7 linked regions of the Homo sapiens genome follow. The protein of the gene in region 1 purifies or fractionates together with the protein of each later gene. This does not show direct contact. Each region holds a gene or a part of one and is shown in the gene's direction. Other genes may lie near its edges.

Region 1 (4,342 bases):
CTCAACTAAAACTAAGGTCTTCACCCAGTATATGATGTTTTTCATTCTAACCAGCACTTACTACTTGCTAAAAGGAATTTCGTAAGCTTTTCTTTTTCTTTTCTTTCTTTCTTTCTTTTTATTTTTCAGACAAGGTCTTGCTCTGTTGCTCAGGCTGGAGTGCAATGGCACGATGTTGTCTCACTGTAACCTCCACTTCCTGGGTTCAAACGATTCTCCTGCCTCAGCCTCCCAGGTAGCTGGGACTACGGGCATGCACTACTATGCCCGGCTAATTTTTGAATTTTTAGTAGAGATGGGGTTTCGCCATGTTGGTCAAGCTGGTCTTGAACTCCTGACCTCAAGTGATCTGTCCACCTCCACCTCCTAAAGTGCTAGGATTACAGGTGTGAGCCACTGCGCCCCCGCTGGCGCTTTGCTTTTTCTTTACAGTCTTCCTCTCATTAGCATGTTTCCCACCCTGCTGAGAATGCTATCCCTGACTCGTCCTCTTCTATTATTATTCTCCTTTTATGCCTTCCTGGGAGCTCGGACATCAACAAAGTTCAGCATTCCAGATTCCTTCTCTACCTGCTCTACTCTGTGGGAAACTGGGTACTTACATGATGGATTTAGTTGCCAAATTATCTTTCTTTGGAAGTAACAGCCCCTTTTCTCCCTCACGGGGAATTCTAAGTTTGCAGCCTGAATTTGACAACCGGGGGAAGGTCTGAGAGTTAGAGACAAGTATCTGTTCTTTGTGGGTATTTATTCACTTACTCAACAAGTAGCTGTATGTGTCCCCTAAGCCAGGCAATCTTCAAAGCTCTGAGAGTCTAATAGTGAACAAAACAGCCCAAATCCCTACCCTCATGAAACTTGCATACTGATGGGTAGAGACAGACATTTAAATAGGTGAAACACATTGTGAGCTGGTGGGAAGCACAAAGAGAACACCAGAGCAGAAAAGAGGGACAGGAGTTTCTGTGGTATGGTGGCTGCAATTTTAAATATGGGAGTCATAGTCTTTGTAAAAGTGACTTACGGGCAAAGACTTGAAGGAGGTGGAGCCTTAAGCCTGCCAATGTTGTGAGGGAAATAGCTCCTGACCAAAAACACAGCCTGTGCCATAGACCTTTGTCCTCACCAGTTACTAACTTACTGCTTTGGGGGGTCAATGGCAATGGCCCTGTGAGAAGCTGACCGAGTGGAGGCTCCTGAGTAGAGGAACCTGACCCTGCCCTGGGCAGAAGGGTGGTGTCTTTTAAAAGATTATGCAAAGTGGGAGAAGGATGTGCATTAGTGTTGGAAGACCCACCTTGCTTTGTAGGCAAGAAAGCATAGTTGTTCTATAAGTGGGCCTTTCAAAGGGGGGCTTACTACATTTATATGATTTGTTTGGTTTTTCCTTCCCTTAGTTTGCTATAATTAAGCCTGCTCTCTCCATTGGTGGCATTTTTCTTGATTAAGTCTCCTTTCTAAAGAGACTGGTTGTGAAGAGGCAGATGGTTTGAGTAGGTGCTGCGAGTGTTTGCTGGCCAAGTGCAGGGCAAGTTGGGTATATTTGTAAGCTCGCTGTGGATGGTAGCTCCAGAGCCTAAGCACGGTGCTGCCTCCTCTGTGCATCACTGGGTCATGCAATTTACCTCTGTGCCTTAGCTTCTGTATATTGGGGTAGTAATGTCACCTAACTCATAAGGTTGTTAGAATTAAATGAGTTTAATACCTATAAAGCATTTAGAGAAGTTGTTGGTACATGGTAAGTTTTAATAAATAGGTACTTAGAAAGTACTCATTGAATAAAAAAGTGATGTTTGTGTTTATCCAGGCTGTACCTTTGGGAGCTGGCTTATAATCTTGAGACTTAAAATTAGAATTTATCCTAGTGATCAAAGATAAAAGTTTGGAACCTTGGCTGTACATTTAGCTACAGGGCTAGAAGAACTGTTTTTGTGAAAATAATTTGCTTACCATAGTGAAGGGCAGGTCTTCTTGGTTACTAAGTTAACATGGATAAGACTTTTACTTTGTCCTGTAGATTAAATACATGTAGGCCCTTTTGTGCTTAAAAAGATTTGTCTGGGCAGGGCGTGGTGGCTCATGCCTGTAATCCTAGGACTTTGGGAGGCCCAGGCAGGAGGATCACCTGAGATCAGGAGTTGGAGACCAGCCTGACTAACATGGTGAAACCCCATCTCTACTAAAAATACAAAATTAGCTGGGCATGGTGGCCCATGCCTGTAATCCCAGCTACTCCAGAGGCTGAGACAGGAGAATGGCTTGAACCTGGGAGGAGGAGGTTGCAGTGAGCCAGTGAGCCAAGATGGCGCCATTGCACTCCAGCCTGGGCAACAAGAGCAAAACTTCATCTCAGAAAGAAAAAAAAAAAAAATTTGCCTGTAATGAACTCCAAAGTGCAGGTTGCTCAAAAGTTACATGGAAACTTGACTGTCATAGCTGGATTGATTCTGGAAGCCTGTGCAGGAGAGGTCGGAGTTCCAGAGAGGCTGGGACCTTCAGCTAGGACCCCAGCCAGGCTGTTGGGCAGGTTGCAGCGATAGTGCAGCAGAGCCCAGAGCTGGCAGCCAACTACTATGGTCATGGCACCTGATTGGGGATGTGGTTTGCAAATAAGTGTCTGTCCTTGTCCATCAGGGGAGTTGGGATCAGGCAGTTTGGGATTTGGGTAGTGGGGTTTTGAGCAGAGGTCTGTGGTTCCCTGTTACATCCCCTATTTGCATGAAGAATCTTCTAGAAGGAAAGCTGGCCTAGTACAGAGGAGGGTCCTTGGAGTGGAAGCAAATGGCTCCCTTCTCCTCTAATTGACTCAGTAGAGGTTGGTAGAATAGAGGTTAAGGGGCAGGGATGCTTGTGTGGCCTTGGAAAAGTTAGCTTCACTTTCCTTTCTGTGCAGTAGGGATGATGAGAACTGTCTACTTCCTGACGTTGCCCCAAGGATTAAAAGAATGTAAGACTCTCAAAACAAGCTTCTTTGACGTCCCATCCACAGTGCAGAAGGCCCCCATTACCCCTGCACTGTGCGGTTGGCTCTCCTTTGCACCCCTTAATTGACCAAAAAGCAGCTTCTGTCACCCTGTAAATCCTTGACCTTGAAGAAGTGGGTGGCTAAAGGTGCCACAGTCAAGATTCCTCAGCCACTCGGCTACTACCCTTACCCTCAATTTTGCAGTTTATGACACTTTAGCCAGAAGCTAAGTGACTTGCCCAGGTGTTCCAAGGTAGGTGGCAGAGGCTCGATGGTGCATTTCTTTCCCTACCATGGGCTTGTCATTGGCTTGCTAGAAGGAATTGCAAACTTCTACCCTCCAGCAGGAGACACCCTGGGTTTGGTTCTCCCTGAGGCCTTTCCATTGTGAGGAAATCATTCCACCCATCAGTCTGGTTGGGAAGCACCCAAACAGATTCTCTTCAAAAAGTCATTTTTGAAGTTATAGTCCAATTTTGACTGGTTAGAGACAGGTCAGACCTACTTACTTTGCTGGCTAAGCTTTTTTTTTTTCTTTGCCCCTCACCACAAGCCTGGACGGGAGACGTACTGCTTGGTATCTGGTGCTTGAGAGGTCCCAGGAGATAAGGGAGCATTTCTGTGAAAGGTTTTGCCAGAGCCTGTCAGGAACTTAATCTTGACTGCAATGAATGACTTAACATTATAAGTGATCTTTGGGTTTAGGTGCCCAAATACCAGTCCCTCCTTAGTAAGCAGCCTTTTAGACCTAACCTTTTCTACCTAAGGTTTTGTTCAGTCTTTTTGAAAAGCAGGAAGGCCAGGTCCTTGTGAGGCTTTTCTCATTACAAGCTCTTGGCAGGTTCTTCCCTCCAAGTGGAGAACCCTTACCTTCCCCATTCTTTCTACCTTCCCCTCTGATGATCCAGAGGGCTGCAAGGGACCTAGAGCTGTTCATTGGAGCCCTAGTCAGCTCTAGCGGCCAGATCTATGGTTAGGTAATCCTCCAATAGTGAGACTAATTCTCAGTGTTAGAATTAGGGGTCTGCCTGTTCTCACCAGCAGACCCACTGGCATCAACTCTCCTTTGTTGACATATAGTTAAGCACCGCTTCTTACAGATCCTCATACTCAGAGCCAACCTTGTCTTGTCTCATAACTCTTGCTACTGGCAGAAGGTGATAAAATTGTGGCCTAGAGGCCAAATGTTTTTTGTTTGGCTTACAGAATTAGATTACTTCTCAACACATTTATTACTTTACAACATTAGATTACTTCTTAACACACTTATGCCTGTAGTTACACATAAAAATCTGGATGCTTGACTTTTTGAAAGATGTGAACAGTTTAGCAATACTGTACTGTCTATCTTCATGCCATCAATTTGTTGGATCTGAG
Region 2 (3,906 bases), on another chromosome or scaffold:
GTGGAGAGGCTGGAGGAGTTGGGGGGAGGTGGGACTCGAAGAGGGAGTCCGTGATTTGGGGTCTGCACCTACAGGGCTCAGGAGCAGCTCTGGGCAGGGTCTGCAGCCATCGAAGGGGACTGTCTCCCACTGCAACCCCGGCTGGGACATCGCTAGCAGGATATTCGCTCTCCAGAGTTTTGAGCCCGGCAATAGCCACCAAGAGTCCTCACCAAGAGGCAGGGCCTGTCCCTGGGGTGGCCATGGTGTGGCTGTTAAGGGGGTTGTCATGGGGCCAGGGCTCGGAGGCATCGTTCTTGTCCTGTGAGTCTCGTTAAAGGCCCCTGAGGTTGCAGAGGCCCCATCAGCTGCTCCTGAGCCACACCGAAGTCTGTACCAGGGGCTGAGGTGCCCTCTCCCCAACGAGGGGAGCGTTGGGGCAGGGAAAGGGGAAGCTAGAAGCAGCTAGAGAGCGGTGCCTGTGCTGGATCCCTGGGCCCCTGGAGGGTTCCTCACCGGGCTGCCGGGTTATGTTTGCGGTGTTTGCACAGCTGAAGACGCAGCTGGAGTGGACAGAAGCCATCCTGGAGGATGAGCAGACACAGCGGCAGAAGCTCACGGCCGAGTTTGAGGAGGTCAGGCCCTGCCTGGTGGCTCTCAGCCCCCATCAGCCCCTGGGCCCTGAGTCTCCAGGGAATGAGTGGGTCAGCCCTGCCCCGCTCGGCTGTGCCCAGCAGCACCTGGGCTGGGCCTGGGCCTTCTGGGCAGCAGTGGGTGGGGCCCGGGCAGGTGGAGCACAGGCTGGAGGCACCTTGGGAGCCCTGTGGGTGGTCTGCATCCCTGAGGAGCCTTGAGGGCCTGGGGCTGGGTCAGAACTTGTGGGTCTGGCCCACTCATTCCAGCTACAGGATGGAGCTGTTGCTCCATCAGGCTGGGGGGGCCCCCTGGTCCCCAGGCGTGCTCGGTAGGGTCTTGACAGCACAGCCGTTTATAAGACGTCTCACCCAGACCTCACTTCCCTCTCCGGCAAGGCTCAGACCTCGGCATGTCGGTTACAAGAAGAATTGGAGAAGCTCCGCACAGCCGGCCCCCTAGAGTCTTCAGAAACAGAGGAGGCCTCACAGCTGAAGGCAGGCAGGGGCTGGGGCGGGGGTCACACCTGGAGGGTCTGCTCTGGGGCTGGCGCCACTCTTGGCCTCGGAAAGGGGCCAGGAAGGGGAGAGCCGACCCCACCGGGACCTGCCCTTGGCACTGGTTCCCCTTGTCACTACCCGGGGCTGGGGTGGGGACTCCTAGCCCTGCAGTGTCACATGGTCACATGGCAGCCATTAGTCCTGGTGGCTGTCGAAATGTGAAGCATGTAGAACGTGAAGTGCGTTCCTCAGCCACACGTCCAGCGCTCAGTAGTCAGGTGTGTCTCCTGTGCTGCCTTGGACAGTGCGGAGTAAACTGCTCCTGCCCCAGGAAGTTCTGGTGGTGCTGAGAGCACAGGACCCAGCCCTCACGGTCAGCATGGGCGGTTTCCTCCCTGTCGTCACCACCTATCTCCGGGTGACCAGGAGTTGCCTTCCTTGTGTCCCCAGAGGGCTCCAGCCCCTGGCGTCAGGGTCCTGTGGGCATAGCTGGGGTGGCCCTCCTGCCGGTGCAAGGGCTGATGCCCGTCAACCTTCTGACCATCAGGAGAGACTAGAAAAAGAGAAGAAGTTAACAAGTGACCTGGGGCGCGCCGCCACGAGACTGCAGGAGCTTCTGAAGACGACCCAGGAGCAGCTGGCAAGGGAGAAGGACACGGTGAAGAAGCTGCAGGAACAGCTGGAAAAGGCAGTGCGTGCCTGGCGCCAAAGCAGGGCGGGAGGAGTCGAGCTGCCGGGAGCCCCGGGGAGGCAGGACCGGGAGAGGCAGAGCTGGGCGGAGTCGTCAAGCTGCTGGGAGCGCTGGGCTGGGAGCCCCAGGGGAGGCAGAGCTGGGCGGAGGTAGTGGGGACAGAGACTTCCTAACGAGGGCTTCAGCCCACCCGGCCCACCACCCACCCTTCTGGGGTTCCCTTGCTGGGAAGCGAGTGTCTGATCCCCCTGCTGGCCCAGGTCCTCACTTTGCACCTGTGTGGGCCCCTTAGCCAGTGCTCCAGCCCCTGCCCTGCAGGATGATGGTTTCCCCTCAGCTCCCACCAAGTCCTCCCTGTCCCCCAGCCCCAGGGGTCTGTGGCTCCTGTTCTCTGAGGGACTGGAGTGGCTTGAGGGGGTCAATCCAGGGAGGGACTAAAGGCCCAGGGTAGAGGGCAGGTGGTTCTGCCATGGCTCGTGGCCCAGCCCCCCTCACGCCACCTGCCTTCGTTCACAGGAGGACGGCAGCAGCTCAAAGGAGGGCACCTCTGTCTGAGTTTCCTCTTTGGAAAAAGAAGTTACTGTTCAACTTACCAAAATGCCTTACACATTCCTTACAAATAAACCAACCAACCTACACAGCGTTATCCAGGCCCAACTTCCGGTAGCTCCGAGAGAAGCCATGAGAGACAAGTCTCTTAGAGCCACAGAAGTAGACCTTCCAGAGCCCCAGTTTGTAAATGAACCTGTGTCACATTTGATAAACACTATCCTGGGCGCAGCCCCGGGCCACCGCCGAGTGACGCCAAAGCCCTGGTTGACTCTGACAGCCCCGTGGGTGTGTGGGAGGCCGGGCGCTCTGGGGTCTGTCTGTCAGTGCAATCGTTTAGTGTTTTTTCAGTGGGGCGGGGCGGGAAGCGGGTGGGACCGGGCAGCCAGTTCTCAAAGGCTGTGGGGCCGACTGGAGGCCACAGCCCCTCACCCCTAGACGTTGCCAACCAGAACTGACGTGTGACCTCCTGGGTGTTGATGCCATTAAAACCAACGTTGGTGCCCGGTGCTGCGGTCTCGTCTGGTCTTCTGCTGGGGCTCCCCCACCCGCTGTTGGGCCCAAGATGAAGAACCAAGGGGTGGGGGCGCACTCGGGAAGAGAGTAAGCGTGGGCCTCAGCTGCTTTGAAGGCAGAGGCTCTGCAGCTCCGCGTAGCGTGGGGTGGGGCTGAGACTCGCTGCTTCCGGGGCCCCCAGCAGTTTTCCTTGTCACCTCCCAGACCTCAGTGCCCTCCGGGCAGGATAAGGGAGCAGGGCCTGCGACACCTGAGAGCCAGATACATTTACTGCTGCCCCGCATCCCGGAGGGGCTGAGGTTTGTGAGCGCGGCTGGTGGCCCGGGCTGTTGCGTGATGGAGGTCCGGGAATGAACAAGGGGTCTCTGTCCTGGCTGGGGCTTAGACACCCACACCCCAGGAGGGTGGGCCAGGGCTGGAGCAGCCCACTGCCTGCCCTCGGGAGGTGGAGTTTCACCTGCAGAAACCAGCTTAGGTTTGCCACGACCCTCAGACCCAGTGTCCTCAGCGGCCCCTGACAGCATGGTCTTTGGCCCCAAGAAGTGTGTCCCTTTGAGTGTAAACAATAGGAACCTGGAGCTTAGTCCACAAAGACGTTCAGAGGCTCAGAGTCACAGTAGGGCCCCAACCAAGCCCGGAATGGAAGGCGGGTCTGCCTTGACCAAGGACTGTTCACTTTAATCTCCCTGCCAAGCCTCGGAATCTTGGGAGAGGGTCTGCTTGGCCGAACTTGGCTGGGGGACAACTGGGCTCTTGGATGGCAGGTCCTCCAGGACGACATTGTGAGAAGGGTTCTGTCAGGGACAGTGGCAGCAAGAACCGGGGTCTCCACAGGCCTATGAGCTTGGCAGGTGGCCTGCTCTGGGATCTCTGTCGTGCATGGCCCCTTCAGGTGGTGGCAGTGACTCGGATGGTTTTCACAACCTCAAGACCAAGGGAAGCCCCGCGGTGTGCGTCTGTGTGCCTCCCTTCCTCAGCCCCCCACACGGCCTCTGCCTGCAGCCTTGAACTGCTTAGCCTCAAACTGCTCGGCCCAGA
Region 3 (4,342 bases), on another chromosome or scaffold:
AACAGAGAGCTGAGAGCTCTGATGCCAGAGCAATGACTGAGACTCCAAAGCATGGTAGGATTGGAGGATGGAGTTCTGGGAAGTCCTAACAGTGGGAGTAACAAGATAGTAAATCCAAGATCCAGCTAAGTAAAAGCTGAAACCAGTTGGGATTAAAGAAGAAGGAATGAATTTGTAACTGGGTAGTACGAAATTTCTTAAAATCAGTATTTTTTAAGTGCGTGAATATTGGAATCATTAGAATGCATAAAAACAGTAATAGTTTTTATAGCAACTCTGTTGCTATAAAATTCATTGAATTTCTCATATCAGTTGCCCTGAAAAATCCTAAATATCACTGTTGTTCACCTAGTAGCAACTCTTTGAATTGTAGCCAGATGTCTAGAAGAAGGTTGTTCTTTAGTAGTAATTCCTGCTAAAGTATGTGGAACACCCCCTCCTTACAAGTACAGAGCTGGGCAGGATGGCTTGCACCTGTAGTCCCAGCTACTAGGGATGCATAGGCAGGAGGATCACTTGAGGCTAGGAATTAGAGACCAGCCTGCTCAACATAGTGTGACTTCATCTCCAAAAACATAATTAAAAAACAATTAGCCAGGTGTGGTGGTGCACACCTGTAGGCCCAGCTACTTAGGAGGCTGAGGCAGGAGGATTGCTTGAGACCAGGAGTTGGAGGCTGCAGTGAGCTATGATTGCGTCACTGTACTCCAGTCTGGATGACAGAGTGAGACCCCGTCTCTCTCTCTCTCTCTCTTTAAAAAAATGTTTTTTAAGAGACAGGGTCTTGCTATGTTGGTCAGGTTGGTCTTGAACTCTTGGCCTCAAGCGGTCCTCCTGCCTCTGCCTCCCAAAGTGCTAGGATTATAGACGTTAGTCGCCACGCCTGGCTGAGACAAGTATTACTACAGCATCTACATGCATTTGAAAGTGTGCTAGTATTCCATGCATAAAAAATGATGAGTTCATGTCCTTTGTAGGGACATGGATGAAGCTGGAAACCATCATTCTCAGCAAACTGTTGCAAGGACAAAAAACCAAACACCGCATTTCTCACTCATAGGTGGGAATTGAACAATGAGAACACGTGGACACAGGAAGGGGAACATCACACACCGGGGCCTGTTGTGGGGTGGGGGGAGGGGGAAAGGATAGTATTAGGAGATATACCTAATGCTAAATGATGAGTTAATGGGTGCAGCACACCAACATGCAACATGGCACATGTATACATATGTAACAAACCTGCACTTTGTGCACATATACCCTAAAACTTAAAGTATAATAATAAAAAAAAAGTGTGCTAAACATTGATTTTACAGATGAGTCACTCACCCCAAGCTGTAGCCTGAGGCCTACAAACTGGAAGTACCTGATTTAGCAGGCGAGAATTCTACCCCTGAACCACCAATGCTACCAGCAGGAAGTACCTGATTTGGAAATCCAACTCTTTGGGAGTTAAAAGAACTTTTATTTTGTTCATTGCTAGTCTTCGGAGCCTAGAAAAGTGCCTGGCACATCCTGGTGGTTCACAACAAATATTTGTTGAAAAAAATCAATGAATTGACTCTGGCTTTTGCAGGTACTCCTTGTTGTTTTTCGCCCAGCTAATTTCTTTTTTTTTTTTTTTTTTTTTTTTGAGACGGAGTCTTGCTCTGTGGCCCAGGCTGGAGTGCAGTGGTGTGATCTCAGTTCACTGCAACCTCCGCCTCCCAGGTTCACGCCATTCTCCTGCCTCAGCCTCCCGAGTAGCTGGGACTACAGGCACCTGCCACCACGCCCAGCTAATTTTTTTGTATTTTTAGTAGACACGGTTTTTCACTGTGTTAGCCAGGATGGTCTCGATCTCCTGACCTCATAATCCGCCCACCTCGGCCTCCCAAAGTGCTATGATTACAGGTGTGAGCCACCACCCCCCGGCCTCACCCAGCTAATTTCTAAAAAGCACCAGACCTTCAAGCTTTTGTTCGCAGCAGAATTCTCTTACCATTTTCTGAAGGATGTTTTCTTCCTTGTTATTTTTTTCCTTCCCATTAATTATGTAGATTTATGTTATTAGGTAATACTGTTTTGAGGATCTATACATATTTGTCATTTACTGCTATTAAAGTGTTCAATATAGTTTCTAAACTTTGAATTAGTTATTTTAGCTCTATCTGCTATATCTTTCTTGAAGCAATGTATTCATTTGGTGGTGTTTTAACGAAATTAACAGCTAATCTTGGCGAGCTCTTCAGTTGATCTTTCATGTCGTAACAGCTCCATCTTGTGAATCTTTAGGGTACTGCTGCTGGAAACCGAAAGCCCTGACTTGTTCTTTTCACAGACCTACAGATCTCTCGTTTTTACACCTGAGAAGTGGACAAAATACTTGAAAACCTAGTGGACAAGGTGAAATTTAGTCAAAGATTGGTTCTGAGGTTTTCTACCCAGGATTAATAATTAGTGTTACATTTTCTAAACCATCTGGTTATTTTAGAGGGAAACAGGGATAGAGCAGTTTCTTCAGTCCTAGATTTAAGTAATATCTCCATTCTTTTGGTTTTTATGTTGTATTGGGTAAGTGAGGTATCAGGAGGCTTGGAGCAGAAACCTATGGATGCTTTAGTCTCCCATGGTTTCAGCAGGAACTTAAAATGACAGAAGTTCTACACTTTTGAATCAAAATCAGTGTAGTTTTTCTGCTTGGTAGCAGCAGGTAATTATTGACTTGAAACCTTTGACTTATTCCCTTGTGGCTTATCAGTTCCCGTTTTTTGATGGAAAGTAGCAAAGAAGTAATTCTAAAGAGTGGTGTAACCAAGTGATTTTCATTTTAAGTTAAGTTCTTAAAATGTACTTTACCAGTCTGGGGTAACATGGCAAAGCTCCATCTCTACAAAAAAAAAAAAAAAAAAATATATATATATATATATAAATTATATATATATATAATTTATATATATATTATATATATAAATTATATATATGTTATATATATAAATTATATATATAGTATATATATAAAAATTATATATATTATATATAAATTATATATATAGTATATATAAAAATTATATATATTATATATAAATTATATATATAGTATATATAAAGTATATATTATATATATAAGAATTATATATATAATATATATAAAAATTATATATATAATATATATAAAAATTATATATATTATATATATATAAATTATATATATTATATATATATAAATTATATATATTATATATATATAAATTATATATATTATATATATAAATTATATATATTATATATATATAAATTATATATATTATATATATATAAATTATATATAATATATATATAAATTATATATATTATATATATATAAATTATATATAATATATATATAAATTATATATAATATATAATTATATATATTATATATATAATTATATATATATTATACATAAAAATTATATATAATACATATATAATTTATATATATAAAATTATATAATATATATAAAAATTATATATATATGCACATACACGCACACACACACACATATATACATATACACACACACACAATTAGCTGGATGTGGTGGCATGCATCTGTAGCTCCAGCTACTCAGGAGGCTGAGATGGGAAGATTGCTTGAGCCAGGGTGGTTGAGGCTTCAGTGAGTCAAGCTCATACCACTGCACTCCAGCCTAGGTGGCAGAGTGAGACCTTGTCTCAAAAAAAAAAAAAAAAAGTACTTTTTATAAGCATAATTGCAGGCCAGGTGCGGTGGCTTACACCTGTAATCCCAGCACTTTGGGAGGCTGAGGCGGGTGGATCACCTGAGGTCAGGAGTTTGAGACCAGCCTGGCCAACATGGCGAAACTCCATCTCTACTAAAAATACAAAAATTAGCCAGGTGTAGTGGCACGCCCCTGTGTTATCCCAGCTACTCAGGAGGCTGAGACAGTAGAATCACTTGAACTCAGGAGGCAGAGGTTGCAGTGAGCCAAGATTGTGCCACTGCACTCCAGCCTGGGTGACAGAAAACAGTAATTGCAGATTTAGCTTCATCTGTGCCCTTTGTAGAGGCTAAAAACTGAAAAACTGCAGTTAAAGTTCTATTCCGTGAAAAAAAATAGTATTCTGAATAATTAAAGCTCAAGTTTAATTAAATAACCTATGGCATATTTAACTCCAGTGTGCAAAATGGGTTGGCAAAGTATGGTTTGTTTTTTCATTGTGTTTTTAAACTGCACATCTGGGAATTTACTCCCTGAATATATCATCTATTTTATAGTAGTCAGTTTAAGGCTATAAGCCAATTACAGTAGAACTATCATTGATTAAAATATTTTTAAAGCATATTCTCTTATCT
Region 4 (4,342 bases), on another chromosome or scaffold:
AGGACAGATATGGTCGGTAAACAGTTGCTGACCCCTTCTCTGAGCCAGGTCATGCTGGAGACACAAAGGTGACCCAGAGACAGGGGTGGCACAGACATGCATACAGATAAAGTAGTATTGTCTCCATTTTATGTGAGCAGATCTGCCACTTGTCTGTCTCCACGGTCACCACCCCAGTCTGGTCTCTCTCCTTGCAGGTCTCCCTGGATCTCTTGCTCCGCAGATCCACACAGCAGCCAATGGGGTCTTTTCAAAAGACAAATCTGGTCTCTGAATGCTGGCCCCTGAAAACTGTAGGTTCCCCACTTCACTGGGACTGAAGTCCCAACTCATCTTATGCCTCTATTTGAGTCACCCTGGTGCACTCTTGGTTCCTCTAGCAGGGATATACTAGGTTCTTTCCTGTTTCCAGGTTTTTTTCAGCACCTACTGTGTGCCAGGTACTGTATTAGGTGCTTGAGAGGAGCCTTCCAGGCCGAGAACTGCTTGGGTTAAAGCCCTGAGGTGGAAATGAGTGGAGCTTGCCTGAAGTCAGTCAGGAAGCCTGTGTGTTGAACAGCTAGTGAGTGGGGAAAGTGGAGAGATGGAGGAGGGGCAGGCAGTCATGCAGATAGGGCCCGAAGATTGAGGGAAGCCATTGGAGGGTTTGCTTGTTTAGTTTTGTTTACTTTAGTAGAATGATGGAGGTGATGTAACTTAAATTTTTAAGAGCCTCCCTCTTCTGGCTGCTGTGGGGAGAATGGCATGTTAGAGCATGGGACCAGTGAAGAGAGTGTGGCAGTGTCCAACTGAGAAGTGGCAGTGTATTTATTTCTTTATTGTTTTTTTTGGAGACAGAGTCTCCCTCTCACCCAGGTTGGAGTGCAGTGGTGCTATTTTAGCTCACTGCCACCTCCGCCTCCCAGGTTCAAGCAATTCTCCTGCCTCAGCCTCCTGAGTAGGTGGGATTATAAGTGCCCACCACCACGCCCAACTAATTTTTGTATTTTTAGTAGAGATGGGATTTCACCATGTTGGCCAGGCTGCTCTCGAACTTCTGACCTCGGGTGATCCGCCCACCTTGGCCTCCCAAAGTGCTGGGATTACAGGCTGTGAGCCACCGCGCCCAGCCTGAGAAGTGACAGTTTAGATGAAGGTGGTGAGATGCAGTTGGATTGCTTATATATTTCACTTGTTGAGCCAAAAACGTGCTGATTGAGGTGAAAGAGGAAAAGAGGAATCAAATCTTAAGTTTTTGGGCAGAGTAGCTGGTTGAATGGTGGTTTCATTTCCTAAAATGGGAAGATTGGGAGAGTAACCGGTAGTGGGGGCAAAGGAGCCATGAGGACTCCAACATGACACATAATAGATCCAACTGGACATCCAAGTGGAGGTGCTGTGGAGGCAGTTGGATCACATCGAGTCTCAAGTTCAGGGGAGTAGTTTGGGCTGGATATAAATACGTGGGAGTCATCCCCGTAGAGAAGGTATGTAAAGCCATAAGACTGGATGAGCTTAATTGGTAAACATAAGAGAACTGGGAGATGATGGAGCCCTGAGGGCCCCCAAACCCTAAAGTCTGTTAGCTAAAGAGGAACCAGGAAGGTAGGTGGAAAAGCACAGGACAGTCACAGAAGCCAAGTAAAGAAAGGGTTTCAGGAAGGAGGGCAAGTCATTCATGCAATCTGTGCTGCTGGTAGAAACATGGTCTTAGGTAATTTTGCATCAGGTATGGAGATCAGGCTGGTCTTTGGACGGAAGAGCAGTTTTAGTGGAGTATGGAAGTCCTTAAGGAGGAGAGGGGATATGGAATCAGGCCCCATGGAGCAGGGATAGTGTAGTGACCAGCCCCATAGGGTCGGTGGGTCTCTCCCTGTGTGCGGCGACGAGAGAGTGTAGAAATAAAGATACAAGACAAAGAGACAAGAGAAAAGGCAGCTGGGCCCGGGGGACCACTACCATCAATGCGCGGAGACCGGTAGTGGCCCCGAATGTTGGGCTGCGCTGTTATTTATTGCATATAAGGCAGAAGGGGCAGGGTAAAGAATGTGAGTCACCTCCAAGGATAGGTAAGGTCATGTGGGTCACGTGTCCACTGGACAGGGGGCCCTTCCCTGCCTGGCAGCCGAGGCAGGGAGGGAGAGGAGACAGAGAGAAAGACAGCTTACGCAATTATTTCTGCATATCAGGGACTATTAGTATTTTTACTAATTTACTACTGCTATCTAGAAGGCATAGCCAGGTGTACAGGATGGAACATGAAGGCAGACTAGGAGTGTGACCACTGAAGCACAGCATCACAGGGAGATGGTTAGGCCTCTGGATAACTGTGGGCGAGCCTGGCTGATGTCAGGCCCTCTACAAGAGGTGGAGGAGCAGAGTCTTTTCTAAACTCCCCTGGGGAAAGGGAGACACCCCCCCCCCTCCCGCCGCCGCCACTTCCCAGTCTGCTAAGTAGCGGGTGTTGTTCCTTGACACCTTTTGCTACCGCTGGACCACGATCCGCCTGGTAACGGGCGTCTTCCCAGACGCTGGCGTCACCGCTAGACCAAGGAGCCCTCTGGTGGCCCTGTCCGGGCATAACAGAAGGCTCGCACTCTTGTCTTCTGGTCACACCTCACTATGTCCCCTCAGCTCCTATCTCTGTATGGCCTGGTTTTTCCTAGGCTATGATTATAGAGCAAGGATTATCATAATATTGGAATAAAAAGTAATTGCTACAAACTAATGATTAATGATATTCATATATAATCATATATAAGATCTATATCTAGTATAACTATTCTTGTTTTATATTTTATTATACTGGAACAGCTCGTGTCCTCTGTCTCTTGCCTCGGTGCCTGGGTGGCTTGCCGCCCACAGGACAGCTCATCTATTTTATTTTATTTTTTTGAGACCGAGTCTCACTCTGTCACCCAGGCTGGAGTGCAGTGGCATGATCTCAGCTCATTGCAGCCTCTGCCTCCCAGGTTCAAGTGATTCTCCTGCCTCAGCCTCCTGAGTAGCTGGGATTACAGGCACCCACCACCACACCCGGCTAATTTTTGTATTTTTAGTAGAGACGGGGTTTCACCATGTTGGTCAGGCTGGTCTTGAACTCCTGACCTCAAGTGATCTGCCCACCTTGGCCTCCCAAAGTGTTGGGATTACAGGTGTGAGCCACCGCGCCCATTCAACTCATCTGTGGTAACAGGAAAGAGTGCCTGGTCTGAAGCTGTAGATGACTGCTATAGGTGACTAGTGGATTCCATAGGGGAAAAGTGGCCTGGTTCTGAATTCATCTCAGTGAATTGGGAAGTGAGATTGTCATTCAATGGGGAAAGGTGTTGGAGGGTTGAGGAGAGTAGAAAATGGGAGTAAATTTACTAGGAAAATGTCATAGGATTGCTGCAATGTGCTATGTGTCTTTTATGGTCTTAATAAATATGATATCTTGGCCAGGTGTGGTGGCTCACACCTGTAATCCCAGCACTTTGGGAGGCTGAAGCAGGTGGATCACGAGGCCAGGAGTTCAAGATCAGCCTGGCCAACATGGTGAAACCCCGTCTCCTCTAAAAATACAAAAATTAGCTGGGCATGGTGGCGAGTTCCTGTAATCCCAGCTATTGGGGAGGCTGAGGCAGGAGAATTGCTTGAACCGGGACCTGAGAGGTGGAGGTTGCAGTGGGCCGAGATCGCGCCACTGCACCCCAGCCTGGTCTACAGAGCCAGACTATGTCTCTAAAATAATTAATTAATTAATTAATTAAATATGATGTCTTGGTGGGGTTGTGATTGTCCTCCTGCTGGGTTCAGTGGGTCCGGTGCAGTGGAGGGTCGGGTTTAATTGGGCTGAGAGTTTTGCCAAGTGAGTTCTCAAAGGGAAAGGGGGTAGAAGGGACACTAGAAATTGGTAGGATGAATTGAATAGAGGTTCTCACCTGACAGGCCACAGCCTTGTTGGAGCTTGGCCTCTGGAAGGAGAAAACCAGAAAGATGAGGCGTGGCTAGAGTTGGGTGCTTGAAGTCCAGATTTCCAAGGAGAGCTATCACTGGTGATGGCCTACTAGGGTAGGAGGGCTGGGGTGGGTGGCTTGAGTTGAGGCACAGCCGGAGTGGTCTCTCATGCGGGAGGCGTGTTTCATCTCTGAAATTGTTAAAATGCACTGTAGGAAGCTGACTGACAGACAATTTTATTGATTATTAAATTCTTAGATTATTAAATTCTCTACAGAGTCCTTTGCCTCCCACCGCCTACCTCTTTGGGTGTTTGGCAGGATCTCAGCTTCCCTAAAGATAAAAATCACCAGGAGTCTTAGACCTGCTGAATCATATTTTCCAGGGGAGATTTACAAGCATGCCAGAGGAACATCCCTTACCG
Region 5 (4,342 bases), on another chromosome or scaffold:
ACAGACCAGGGGTCCAGGCAAGCTTCTGGGAGGAGGGGACACCGAGGCAGAGCCCAGGGCTGAGGAGGAGGAGGAGAAATTCCAGCAGATGCTGGGGAAGCCGGGCTTTAGTGGAGAAAATCACTCCTGTGAAACGCTGGGGGCTTTTTGGTTTTGGGTTTTTTTTTTTCTTCCTGCCATCTAGAGCAAAATGGCAAGGTTGGGATTTGAACCAATGTCTGTTTCCAAGGCCCGTGCTCTTAACCCCTCTGCTGCCTCCATGTGAAATCATAAGAGTTGTGGAGCCGGTGTCTGGGTGTGGCCTGGCATGAGGCTGGCCTGGCCTGAGCCCGTGCTGGGCCTCTGAAGCCAGCCTTGGAGCCTGGACTCTCTCCCATGGTCAGTGGGGACCAGGAGGGGCCGCAGGCCAAGGGGAACTCGGCCAGGTTTGCATCCAGCGGGTGGAGATGGGTGTGCCTGGGGACTCACCCTCCCGGTGCCCAGCCCAGCCTGGCGGGGAGAAGCCCCAAGGCCCACAAGTTGGCCATAGACACAAGTGCAGCCTCAATGTGGTAGCCCACTGAGGGGTCCGTGTGGTCCTTGCAGGGTGCTTTTGAATGCTTTGACTTCTTTGCCTCCACTGAGAAAGTGACAGACTTCACTTCCAAAGCCGTTTCTGGCATCTGGTGACAGACCAGCTGGAGGCGAGTGGCAGCTGCCTCCACGGGCAGGGCACTGGCTCTTCTGGGCCACAGGCCGCACCCGACCCACCTCAGCTCCACGCCCTGCCTGGCTCTGTGGCCACTTGCATGTAGGCTTTGCCCCCACCAAGGTGTCTCCAAAAACCCAGCCCCTGCCTGGCTTGCCAGATGTGAGGCCTGCCTGTGACTGTCCCAGCAGGAGGCAGGGCACTTGAATTCACACATGGGGCCTTGTGGCCAGCACTGTCCTGGGGCCCCATAGGCACTTGTGTTTGCTGCCCTTGACCGGGCCTCAGGCCTCCCAGGACCTTCTCGACTCCCTGTTGGTTTTTTTTTTTTTTTTTTTGAGAGACATTCCTGCTCTGTCTCCCTGGCTGGAGTGCAGTGGCGCCACCTCGGCTCATGCAACCTTCGCCTCCTGGGTTCAAGCGATTTTCCTGCCTCAGCCTCCCGCGTAGCTGGGATTACAGGCGCCCACCACTATGCCCATCTAATTTTTGTATTTTTAGTAGAGACGGGTTTTCGCCATTTTGGCCAGGCTGGTCTCAAACTCCTGACCTCAGGTGATCCTCAGCCTCCCGAGGTGCTGGGATTATAGGCGTGAGCCACTGCTTCTTGCCTCAACGCCCTGTTCTAACAGCAAAGTCTGGCCTTGTGTCCACCTTGACTTCCTGGGGCCCCTGGGCAAGGCCCGGCTTCAGGCAGACAGCCACGGCCAGGAGAGACAGGGCAGCGGCAGACCACGGATTTTGTGGGATCAGTGTTTTCTACACGTTACAGGCAGGCCTCTGGCTGGAGGATGCCTGGCAGCCCCAGGCAGGGTCCGGGTTTCGTGGGATCAGTGTTTTCCACACATTAGAGGCAGGCCTCCGGCTGGAGGACATCTGGCAGCCCCGGGCAGGGTCCTTGTCAGCAGGGCCCACGTTCTCAGCTCACTGTGGCCTTTGCACAGACACCTCACTCACTACGTGGTTTAGCAAAAGTTCACTGAGCCCCTGCTGTGCGCCAGATGCTGGTCTAGGTGCTGAGATGGAGCAGGACCCGAAGCAGACAGGAAAAAACAATCCCTGCCCAGAGCATGCACTAGGCAGAGCCGGGAGCAGACAGATGCCTGTGTGCTCTGTATCAGCTGCTGTTAGGTGCTCTAGGTAGAATGCAGGCAGGGCAGGGGCCGGGGAGGGCAGGGGCTGGCATTTTAGATGATGGGAGGCCAGCAGAAGCCTCACTGAGAAGCTGAGTTTTGAGCAAAGACCTGAAGGAGTGGAGGGAGGGAGCCACAGGGACCCTGAGAGCTGATGTTCCAGGCAGAGGGAGCCGCCAGCGGAGAGGCCCTGGGCGCAGGGGGGCGGGGGTGGGGGAGACACCCGTGTGTCTGGAAATGGAACGGGGGCAGAGGGGGCCTGCAGGACACGACTCAGACCACAGAGGGTGGGGACCGGGTGACTCGGGATGCACTGGATGCTCTGCCTGGTCCCCATCTGCATTTGCATTTGCCACCCGGCTCCTGGGACCCCCTTGCCCTCTACTTTGGGACCAGGCCTTTCTGACTCTCCCTGTCCCCCACTCCTTGTTGTTCATGGGAGCAGAGAGTGTGGTTTTGGGGCTAAGGAACACTGGCGCCCACATGGGAGGAAGTGCCAGGCCAGGCCCTGGCCCCAGCGCCCTGTCATTTGCAGCCCTCGGGGCTGATTATGGGGTGGGTCAATTTCTGCCCTTCCTCCCCCAAACCCCTCAGGGCAGGACTATTCCACCAGTGTGAGGAACAGGAGAAAAACAAGGGGGGCCTCTCCAGGGTCCCACCGAGCCCAGGGGGCAGCAGCCTGGCCATGGCGATCACTCCTCTGGCCCCTGCAGCTGTGTCCCCAGGGAGGGGAGGGGCTGCACTGCCCATGCCATTGTCACTCCATGGCATCTCTTCATTGCGTCTCTGTCTTGTCTCTGTGTGTGTCGTGCTGTCCTGTCCCTGCGTGTCGGATGCACGTCCTGTGTGCCCCACTCCTTGCTGGGCCCCCACCCACCATTGCCTGGGACCCCAGACCATCGTGCGGGGCAGCAAAGGTGCCAAAGATGGGGCCCTCACGCTGCTGCTGGACGAGTTTGAGAACATGTCGGTGACACGCTCCAACTCCCTGCGGAGAGACAGCCCGCCGCCGCCCGCCCGTGCCCGCCAGGAAAATGGGATGCCAGAGGAGCCGGCCACCACGGCCAGAGGGGGCCCAGGGAAGGCAGGCAGCCGAGGCCGGTTCGCCGGTCACAGCGAGGCGGGTGGCGGCAGTGGTGACAGGCGACGGGCGGGGCCAGAGAAGAGGCCCAAGTCTTCCAGGGAGGGCTCAGGGGGTCCCCAGGAGTCCTCCCGGGACAAACGCCCCCTCTCCGGGCCTGATGTCGGCACCCCCCAGCCTGCTGGTCTGGCCAGTGGGGCGAAACTGGCAGCTGGCCGGCCCTTTAACACCTACCCGAGGGCTGACACGGACCACCCATCCCGGGGTGCCCAGGTAACCCATCCCCCGCCCCAGGGCCCCCACTGTCCCCTGCCCGTTGCTCCTCTGTCCCCACCTTCCAGCCCCGCCCCACCACCGTGCATCTCATCCTGACCACCCATGTGTCTGTCCCATCGCTGGGTCTCTCTCCTGCTTAGGGAGCAGAGCTGCTCCCTGGCACCCATCACTGACAGCTACCTCTCTTCTGTTTCAGGGGGAGCCTCATGACGTGGCCCCTAACGGGCCATCAGCGGGGGGCCTGGCCATCCCCCAGTCCTCCTCCTCCTCCTCCCGGCCTCCCACCCGAGCCCGAGGTGCCCCCAGCCCTGGAGTGCTGGGACCCCACGCCTCAGAGCCCCAGCTGGCCCCTCCAGCCTGCACCCCCGCCGCCCCTGCTGTTCCTGGGCCCCCTGGCCCCCGCTCACCACAGCGGGAGCCACAGCGAGTATCCCATGAGCAGTTCCGGGCTGCCCTGCAGCTGGTGGTGGACCCAGGCGACCCCCGCTCCTACCTGGACAACTTCATCAAGATTGGCGAGGGCTCCACGGGCATCGTGTGCATCGCCACCGTGCGCAGCTCGGGCAAGCTGGTGGCCGTCAAGAAGATGGACCTGCGCAAGCAGCAGAGGCGCGAGCTGCTCTTCAACGAGGTGCGGGCGCTGCTGCCCTGCCGCCCTGCTGGTCCTCCCACCCCTCCCTCCCACCCTCCCTCCCCTCCTCCCTCCTCTCCCTGCACTCCTCCGTGCTGGGCCAGGCTCCCCTCCTCCCCTCACTCTTCTCCCTCCCCAGGCCGTCTCGTCCGCCCCAGCTGGGTCCCTGCCTCTGTCCTCACAGCACCCTCACCCACATCTCTGTCCCTGAGCCCCAGACCCAGGGTTCCTCGGGCCACTGACCCCCGACCCAGTGTCTTCCAGGCCCCTCGCACCCACTGAGGCCCGCCTGGGCTCCAGGGTACAGTGTCCTCCAGACCTGCCCCTCCTGGGTTCCCTGTGCCCCGCCCTGGCCTCCACTCCTGGGTGTCCCTCGGCACAGCCCACACAACCACCAAGAGTATGTTTCTGACGTTCAGGCCCACCCCCTCCCCGTCCCTCCTTAGAGACCCTGGCAGTGCCCCGTAGCACCCTGACGATAGGAAGCCCAGGTCCCTTTGCCGGGTGTGTGAGGCCCCTCTCGACCCCGTTGC
Region 6 (3,312 bases), on another chromosome or scaffold:
GGCTGGGGAGGCCTCACAATCATGGCCTGAGGTGAAAGATGAGCAAAGGCACATCTTACATGGCGACAGGCAAGAGAGCGTGTGCAGGGGACTGCTCTTTATAAAACCATCAGCTCTTGTGAGTCTTATTCACTATCACAAGAACAGAACTGGAAAAACCAGTCCACGTGATTCAGTTACTTCCAATAATTTTTTCCAATTCTGTGGAAAATGACATTGGTAATTTGATAGGAGTAGTATTAAATCTGTAGATTGATTTCAGCAGTATGCCCATTTTAGCCATATTAATTCTTCCAATCCATGAGCATGGAATGTTTTTCCATTTGTTCATGTTATCTATGATTTCTTTTAGCAGTGTTTTGTAATTCTCTTAGAGATCTTTCACATCCTTGGGTAGAGGTATTTCTAGGTATTGTGTGTGTGTGTGTGTGTGTGTGTGTGTGTGTGTGTGTGTGTCTGTTGTAAATGGGATTGTGTTATTGATTTGGTCCTCAGCCTGAACATTATTGGTATATAGATATGCTACTGATTTTTTTTCTTTTTGAGACAGAGTCTTGCTCTGTCACCCAGGCTGGAGTGCAGTGGCGCGATCTCAGCTCACTGCAAGCTCCACCTCCCAGGTTCACGCCATTCTCCTGCCTCAGCCTCCCCAGCAGCTGGGATTACAGGCGCACACTGCCACGCCTGGTTAGTTTTTTGTATTTTTAGTAGAGGTGGGGTTTCACCGTGTTAGCCAGGATGGTCTCGATCTCCTGACCTTGTGATCCGCCCTCCTTGGCCTCCCAAAGTGCTGAGATTACAGGCGTGAGCCACCGTACCCAGCTACGCCCCGTTAATTTTTGTATTCTTTAGTAGAGACGGGGTTTCACCATGTTGGTCGTGCTGGTCTTGAACTCTTGACATCGTGATCCGCCTGCCTCGGCCTCCCAAAGTGCTGGGATTACAGGTGTGAGCCACGGTGCCCGGTGCTACTGATTTTTATACATTGATTTTGTATCCTGAAATTTTGCTGAAGTCGTTTATTAGTTCCAGGGGCCTTTTGGTGGAGTATTTAGGGTTTCCAAGGTATAGAATCATATCGTCCATGAAGAGTTTTCACTTCTTCATTTCATATCTGGATGCCTTTTCTTTCTTTCTCTTGCCTGAGTGCTCTGACTAGGACTTCCAGTACTATGTTGAATGGGAGTGGTGAGCGTGAGCATCCTTGCCTTGTTCCAGTTCTCAAGGGGAATGCTTCCAGCTTTGGCCCATTCAGTATGATGTTGGCTGTGGGTTTGTCATAGATGGCTCTTACCATTTTGAGGCATGTTCCAATGGGAACTTTCTAATGTTTTTTAACATCCAAAAGAGCAAACACCTCTTCCATACTTTTTCAAAATGTATTATTTTACCCAGATAAAATTTAGAATTAAAAGATTTCCTCCATCCTTCCCTCCCGAAAAACCTCAGTTGCCGTTTTATCAATTCGCTTTAAAATTAAAAATTAATCTAGAAACACTGAATATTTTATTAATATTCAGTATTTCCTTATCAAAGGAGATAACATTTGGTGTCAAGTATTTTATTGTAACTGAGTTGTGATTTGTGTTCCTCTTCAAATAAATTATTCCTGTTTCTTATGGCTGTTTAGTATTTTGTATCCATTATGAGTTGGATAACCTTGTAATTCTGTTTGCTAATTTATTGCATTTGCTATGTTTTTAACATTCCTCCAGACATACATTTCTATTTCAATATTGTAGTTTCATCTTAGGGGTTTTAAATGACGTTGAAAATAATGATTATTGTGTCTGCCCTCTTCCAAAAGTCTTGCCTCATTTTAATTTTCCATCTTGTTGCCTAGGCCAGACCTTTCAGAACAATATTCAGCTGTGCTTAGGGAAGGCAGGTGTTTGGGTCCTGATTTGATTTCTGGGGAAGGCCTCCAAAGTGTCACTCTTAGCAATGGCATTCACTTTTGGTTTCATATAGAAATTCTCATCATCAAGAACACAGCTTACTATTCTAAAAGGGTTTGAAAAAAATCAGAATTGCTGTTTAATTTTACCAAATGTCTTTCCAGCCTCCATAGAGACTGCCATTTTATTTAATTACGCTATTGATATGGTAGAGTACTGATGATCAAAGATCATTTACAGTCTTGGGATAAATCATTTTGTTAGGTTTTCCTGGGTGCTCTCATATATAGTCTGCCGAGACTCTGCTGGTAAGAATTCTGGAAGGAAGTGATCATTTCTTGTGAGGGTGGGTGGGAGTTGATTAGATGGGGCAGAAGGGGACTTTCTGGGGTGTGGCAGTTTCTATGTCTTGATCAGGGGATAATTACACAGGCCTATAGTCAAAGTTGGTCAGAACACTTACAAAGTGAGCATTTACTGCATGTCACTTATGTCTCAATGAGCCACCAGCACACAGAGCCCAAGAGCTATGGAGGACCAGAGGTTTGTCTCCATCTCCATGGAGACCCAAGAGGGAAAGCGCTGCAGGTCTCTTGCTGGCTAGTGGTCAGGGTCAGTACTAGACTGCAGGACTCCTGACTCTGACCAGAGCATTCCCCACTGTGTGTTACAGGAACAGGCAGAAGCTGAAGGGTGTCAGAGGAGGAGGCTGCTGGTTCCAGTGAATGACGCTGACTCCGCTGACAGTAAGTGTTTTGTGCCTTGAGACGCAGCAGGAGGACAGGGAATAGGGACGGTGTCCTAACTGCTGTCCCTATAGCTGAGAGGGCTCTTCTGGAGGTTTCACTGCTGGAAGCAGGGGGCCCCATGTCGATCCTGTGCTGATCGTCCTTGGAGCATTGAGACCCTAAATCTCTTCTCTCTTCTCAGTCAGCACCTTGCTGGATGCCTCGGCAACACTGGAAGAAGGACATGCAAAGGAAACAATTCAGGACCAACTGGTGGGCTCCGAAAAGCTCTTTTATGAAGAAGATGAGGCAGGCTCTGCTACGTCCTGCCTGTGAAAGAATCTCTTCAGGAAACCAGAGCTTCCCTCATTTACCTTTTCTCCTACAAAGGGAAGCAGCCTGGAAGAAACAGTCCAGTACTTGACCCATGCCCCAACAAACTCTACTATCCAATATGGGGCAGCTTACCAATGGTCCTAGAACTTTGTTAACGCACTTGGAGTAATTTTTATGAAATACTGCGTGTGATAAGCAAACGGGAGAAATTTATATCAGATTCTTGGCTGCATAGTTATACGATTGTGTATTAAGGGTCGTTTTAGGCCACATGCGGTGGCTCATGCCTGTAATCCCAGCACTTTGATAGGCTGAGGCAGGTGGATTGCTTGAGCTCGGGAGTTTGAGAC
Region 7 (4,342 bases), on another chromosome or scaffold:
AGCAATCTCCTACCTCTCCCTCCCAAAGTGCTGAGATTACAGGGGTGCACCAGTGCCCTGGCAAATTGTTACATTTTTATGTTGAAGTAATTTCAGTTGTTAAAATGTAACTACATATATGCAATTTCTTCAGGAATTTTCAGACAAGGAAGTACAAAACTCTCACTTGCTTTTGACATGTTTTTACATCTGGTTTTTAAATTTCTTCACCAAACACACTTAGAGTGCATGTGGTTTTCATTGTGGGTGGAGGGGGGGGTACAGGCTGACAAATAAGGAACCACACCCAAGCTTCACAAACCAAACAGAGGTTTTTTTTTTGTTGTTTTTGTTTTTTTTAATTCCTTTAGTGATACTCTAAAACATTTGAGTTTGCTTTGGTATTAGTCGAAACTTCCCCATAAAAAATAATGTGATATTTTATAGTAAGGTAGCTCTTAATGCAGTGTCTTAAATTTGTTTTTACTGATCTTTTTGGCACATGATGAATCAAAATGTTTGACTCTCAAGTAGAGTCTTAGTTTTGAATCTCTGCTCTGAAGGAATTATTTATGTGATTTTTGTCTGCGTATCTTTTTAAATAATTGCTTTTTAAATAATTTTAAGGCTTTTTTGAACAAGTGTTTTATAAGCCTTAGTTTAATCCACAAAACAATTTAAAAAGCTACTAAATATTAAGGGGGAAAACCTGAAAACTTTTCTTAAAATGCACTATCTTTGAAAATGGTCCTTGGCTGGGTGCGGTGGCTTATGCCTCTAATCCCAGCACTTTGGGAGGCCCAGGCAGTCAGATCATCTGAGGTCAGGAGTTCAAGACTAGCCTGGCCAACATAGTGAAACCCCGTCTCTACTAAAAACTAGCTGGGGGTGATGGCATGTCCCTGTAGTCCCAACTACTTGGGAGGCTGAGGCAGGAGAATCGCTTGAACCCAGGAGGCGGAGGTTGCAGTGCACCGAGATTGTGCCATTGCACTCCAGCCTGGGCGACAGAGTGAGACTCCATTTCCAAAAAAAGAAAAATGGCCCTTTGACTCTCATGATTCTTTTTTGCTGCAGCTGTGGGGGGTAGTAGAGACAGGGTCTTGCTATGTTACCCAGGCTGGTCTTGAATTCCTGGACTCATGAACTCCTGGGCTCAAATGATCTCTCTACCTCACCCTCCCAAAGTGATGGGATTACAGGCATGAACCACAGTGTTCAGCCTCTCCTAATTTTTACTCAGCTTTATATTGGGATGAAGAGACAGAGAAGTAGATCATATGAGAGGTAGGAATGGTAAGAATAAAATATTGAGCACTATTGGCCGGGCATGGTGGCTCACGCCTGTAATCCCAGCACTTTGGGAGGCTGAGATGGGCAGATCATGAGGTCAGGAGATCGAGACCATCCTGGCTAACACGGTGAAACCCTGTCTCTACTAAAAAATAGAAAAAATTAGCCGGGCGTGGTGGCGGGTGCCTGTAGTCCCAGCTACTCGGGAGGCTGAGGCAGGAGAATGGCACGAACCTGGGAGGCGGAGCTTGGAGTGAGCCGAGATCGCGCCACTGCACTCCAGCCTGGGCGACAGAGCGAGACTTCGTCTCAAAAAAAAAAAAATTGAGCGCTATTGCCAATGCTGGAGCAAGTCAATGTTAGTGAACAATTTGGCCAAGTGTGATAATACAGGTTAGCTGAAATATCTGGAGGAAAACAAGATTTTATTTTATTTATTTATTTTTTTTGAGACGGAATCTTGCTCTGTCACCCAGGTGGAGTGCAGTGGCATGATCTCGGCTCACTGCAACCTCTGCCTCCCGGGTTCAAGCGATTCTCCTGTCTCAGCCTCCCGAGTAGCTGGGATTATAGGCGCCTGCCACCACGCACAGCTAATTTTTGTGTTTTTAGTAGAGACGGGGTTTCACTCTGTTGGTCAGGCTAGTCTCCCAACTCCTGACCTCAGATGATTCGCCTGCCTTGGCCTCCCAAAGTGCTGGGATTACAGGCGTGAGCCACCGCGCTCAGCCGATTTTATTATTTATTTTTGAGACTGAGTCTCGCTGTGTAGCCCAGTCTGGAGTGCAGTGGCGCTATCTCGGCTCACTGCAACCTCTGCTTCCCAATTCAAGCAATTCTGCCTCAGCCTTTGGAGTAGCTAGGACTACTGGTGTGTGCCACACTCCTGGTTGAAAACAATATTTTAAATTTAGGAAAAAAATATTCTATAACTTATCTAAACACATTGGTGGTGTTTTTTTCTTGTGTAAAATGAGGAAATTAAGATCTCTTGTTTTTAAGGTATTGCTGCTTCTACCACTAGAATCGTGATTCAGGTTTTTTGTCATATTGTTCCCTTTATTTTAAGACTTAAAACTTTATTTTAACTTGTAAATTCAAATAAACGGCAAACATTTATCAAATACCTTAAGGCTGTGTCAGAGCATATATGTATCAGATTACCATTTTTAATCATAGATTTTTCTTTTAACTGTGGATAAACTTAAAAAGTTATTGGTAACAGTATATGCTTATGGAAGAAAATATAGAAAAACATGGGCTGGGTGCAGTGGCTCATGCCTGCAATCCCAGCACTTTGGGAGGCCAAGTTGGGTGGATCACTTGAGGTCAAGAGTTTGAGACCAGCCTGACCAGTGTGGTGAAACCCCGTCTCTACTGAAAATACAAAAAAAAAAATTAGCTGGGCACAGTGGCTGGTGCCTGTCATCTTAACTACTTGGGAGGCTGAGACACGAGAATCGCTTGAACCTGGGAGGCAGAGGTTCCAGTGAGCTGAGATTGAATCATTGTACTCCAGCATGGGCGACAGAGTGAGACTCCATCTCAAAAAAAAAAAAAAAGAAAAAGAAAAACATGGAAAAAGCACAAGCAAGAATAACATTTTCTATTCCCACTACCTACAGGTAAGCCACTAATAACATTTTGATGATATGTTTCTAATAATTATGTGCATATACAGTAAACACATAAAGAAAATTGAGATCGTGATATACATTCTGCTTTGTAATGTGTTCTGTTGACTTAGAGTGGAAACATTTCCTCTGACATTAACTATTTGGACATATTTTAATTGTCTGCACATTATTTTATTGAAGGGCTTTTTCATACTGAATTAATTCTATTGTGTATATTCAAGTTATCCCTAATTTCCCTTTGTGATTACAATGCTGCATTGCACCTCCTTGTGATGAATTTTTATGGGTCTTTGATTTCTTCAAGGTAGATTTTTAGATGGCAAAGAATTGTACTGTATGCATACTGTATATTTTTTTTTAGGTCTCACTATGTTGTCCAGGCTAGTCTTAAACTTGGGGACTCAAGCAGACCTCTGTCTTGGCCTCCCAGGAAGCCAGGATTACAGGCGTGTGGTTTACTATATATTCTTAATTTATCTATATGGTATTGTGATCTTGTTCTCTTTTTAAAAATGCAATATGCACTTGCACTAATATGTTTTAAAGATATATTTGTGGGCTGGGCACGGTGGCTCACGCCTGTTATCCTCAGCACTTTGGGAGGCTGAGATGGGCGGATCATGAGGTCAGGAGTTTTGAGACCATCCTGGTTAACATGGTGAAATCCCGTCTCTACTAAAAATACAAAAAATTAGCCCGGTGTATTGGTGGGCGCCTGTAGTCCCAGCTGCTTGGGAGGCTGAGGCAGGAGAATGGCGTGAACCTGGGAGGTGTAGGTTGCAATGAGCGGAGATCGCGCCACTGCACTCCAGCCTGGGCGACAGAGCGAGACTCCTTCTCAAAAACAAACAAATAAATAAATAAATAAAGATATATTTGTGTGGGCCAGGCGCGGTGGCTCACAGTTGTAATCCCAGCACTTTGGGAGGCCGAGGTGGCCCCGTCTCTACTAAAAATACAAAATTAGCCAGGTGTGGTGGCGCATGCCTGTAATCCCAGCTACTCGGGAAACTGAGGTGGGAGAATCGATTGAACCTGGAAGGTGGAGGTTGCGGTGAGCCAAGATCATCCTGTCGCACTCCAGCCTGGGCAACAAGAGCGAAACTCCATCTCAAAAAGAAAAAAAAAGATATATTTGTGTGACTTACAGGTACAGGTAAAGTTGCTTCTGGTTTTCTGGTTGTTGCATGGTATTTCCTATGCAGCCACAGCTCTTTATTTTCTTACTTAAGTGCCTCCAACTTCCCATAACACAAATTAAGGCATGATGAACATCCTCTCTGTGCTGAACATCCTGTGTATGTCACTTTAGAAGCCTGTGTGACGGTTTCTTTAGTCTTTATACCTAGGGGTGGGATTTCTGGGTCATAGGACAGTAATTTATATTTATTTTCACTAAGTATTCTCTTTCTCTGGCTTTTGTTACATATTAC

The links.
Region 2: the proteins of MTHFD1 (region 1) and RRBP1 fractionate together in Homo sapiens (co-fractionation; one large-scale study listed by BioGRID). This does not show direct contact.
Region 3: the proteins of MTHFD1 (region 1) and PPA1 fractionate together in Homo sapiens (co-fractionation; one large-scale study listed by BioGRID). This does not show direct contact.
Region 4: the proteins of MTHFD1 (region 1) and AHCY fractionate together in Homo sapiens (co-fractionation; one large-scale study listed by BioGRID). This does not show direct contact.
Region 5: the proteins of MTHFD1 (region 1) and PAK4 purify together in Homo sapiens (co-immunoprecipitation; one large-scale study listed by IntAct). This does not show direct contact.
Region 6: the proteins of MTHFD1 (region 1) and TNFRSF10D purify together in Homo sapiens (co-immunoprecipitation; one large-scale study listed by IntAct). This does not show direct contact.
Region 7: the proteins of MTHFD1 (region 1) and STK38 purify together in Homo sapiens (affinity purification with mass spectrometry, with the first as the bait; one large-scale study listed by BioGRID). This does not show direct contact.

The regions. Positions count from the first base shown.
Region 1 is NC_000014.9:64,391,057-64,395,398, forward strand, and holds part of MTHFD1 (C-1-tetrahydrofolate synthase, cytoplasmic), read left to right. Parts: intron 1-4,342. UniProt on the Homo sapiens protein: Trifunctional enzyme that catalyzes the interconversion of three forms of one-carbon-substituted tetrahydrofolate: (6R)-5,10-methylene-5,6,7,8-tetrahydrofolate, 5,10-methenyltetrahydrofolate and (6S)-10-formyltetrahydrofolate.
Region 2 is NC_000020.11:17,612,634-17,616,539, reverse strand, and holds the end of RRBP1 (ribosome-binding protein 1), read left to right. Parts: intron 1-530; coding exon 531-614; intron 615-1,010; coding exon 1,011-1,109; intron 1,110-1,659; coding exon 1,660-1,803; intron 1,804-2,319; coding exon 2,320-2,358; 3' UTR 2,359-2,861; downstream 2,862-3,906. UniProt on the Homo sapiens protein: Acts as a ribosome receptor and mediates interaction between the ribosome and the endoplasmic reticulum membrane.
Region 3 is NC_000010.11:70,219,630-70,223,971, reverse strand, and holds part of PPA1 (inorganic pyrophosphatase), read left to right. Parts: intron 1-4,342.
Region 4 is NC_000020.11:34,296,671-34,301,012, reverse strand, and holds part of AHCY (adenosylhomocysteinase), read left to right. Parts: intron 1-4,342. UniProt on the Homo sapiens protein: Catalyzes the hydrolysis of S-adenosyl-L-homocysteine to form adenosine and homocysteine. Binds copper ions.
Region 5 is NC_000019.10:39,170,202-39,174,543, forward strand, and holds part of PAK4 (serine/threonine-protein kinase PAK 4), read left to right. Parts: intron 1-2,716; coding exon 2,717-3,175; intron 3,176-3,374; coding exon 3,375-3,809; intron 3,810-4,342. UniProt on the Homo sapiens protein: Serine/threonine-protein kinase that plays a role in a variety of different signaling pathways including cytoskeleton regulation, cell adhesion turnover, cell migration, growth, proliferation or cell survival.
Region 6 is NC_000008.11:23,137,520-23,140,831, reverse strand, and holds part of TNFRSF10D (tumor necrosis factor receptor superfamily member 10D precursor), read left to right. Parts: intron 1-2,571; coding exon 2,572-2,644; intron 2,645-2,828; coding exon 2,829-2,962; 3' UTR 2,963-3,312. UniProt on the Homo sapiens protein: Receptor for the cytotoxic ligand TRAIL. Contains a truncated death domain and hence is not capable of inducing apoptosis but protects against TRAIL-mediated apoptosis. Reports are contradictory with regards to its ability to induce the NF-kappa-B pathway.
Region 7 is NC_000006.12:36,540,324-36,544,665, reverse strand, and holds part of STK38 (serine/threonine-protein kinase 38), read left to right. Parts: exon of another isoform or gene 1-2,897; intron 2,898-3,876; exon of another isoform or gene 3,877-4,065; intron 4,066-4,342. UniProt on the Homo sapiens protein: Serine/threonine-protein kinase that acts as a negative regulator of MAP3K1/2 signaling. Converts MAP3K2 from its phosphorylated form to its non-phosphorylated form and inhibits autophosphorylation of MAP3K2.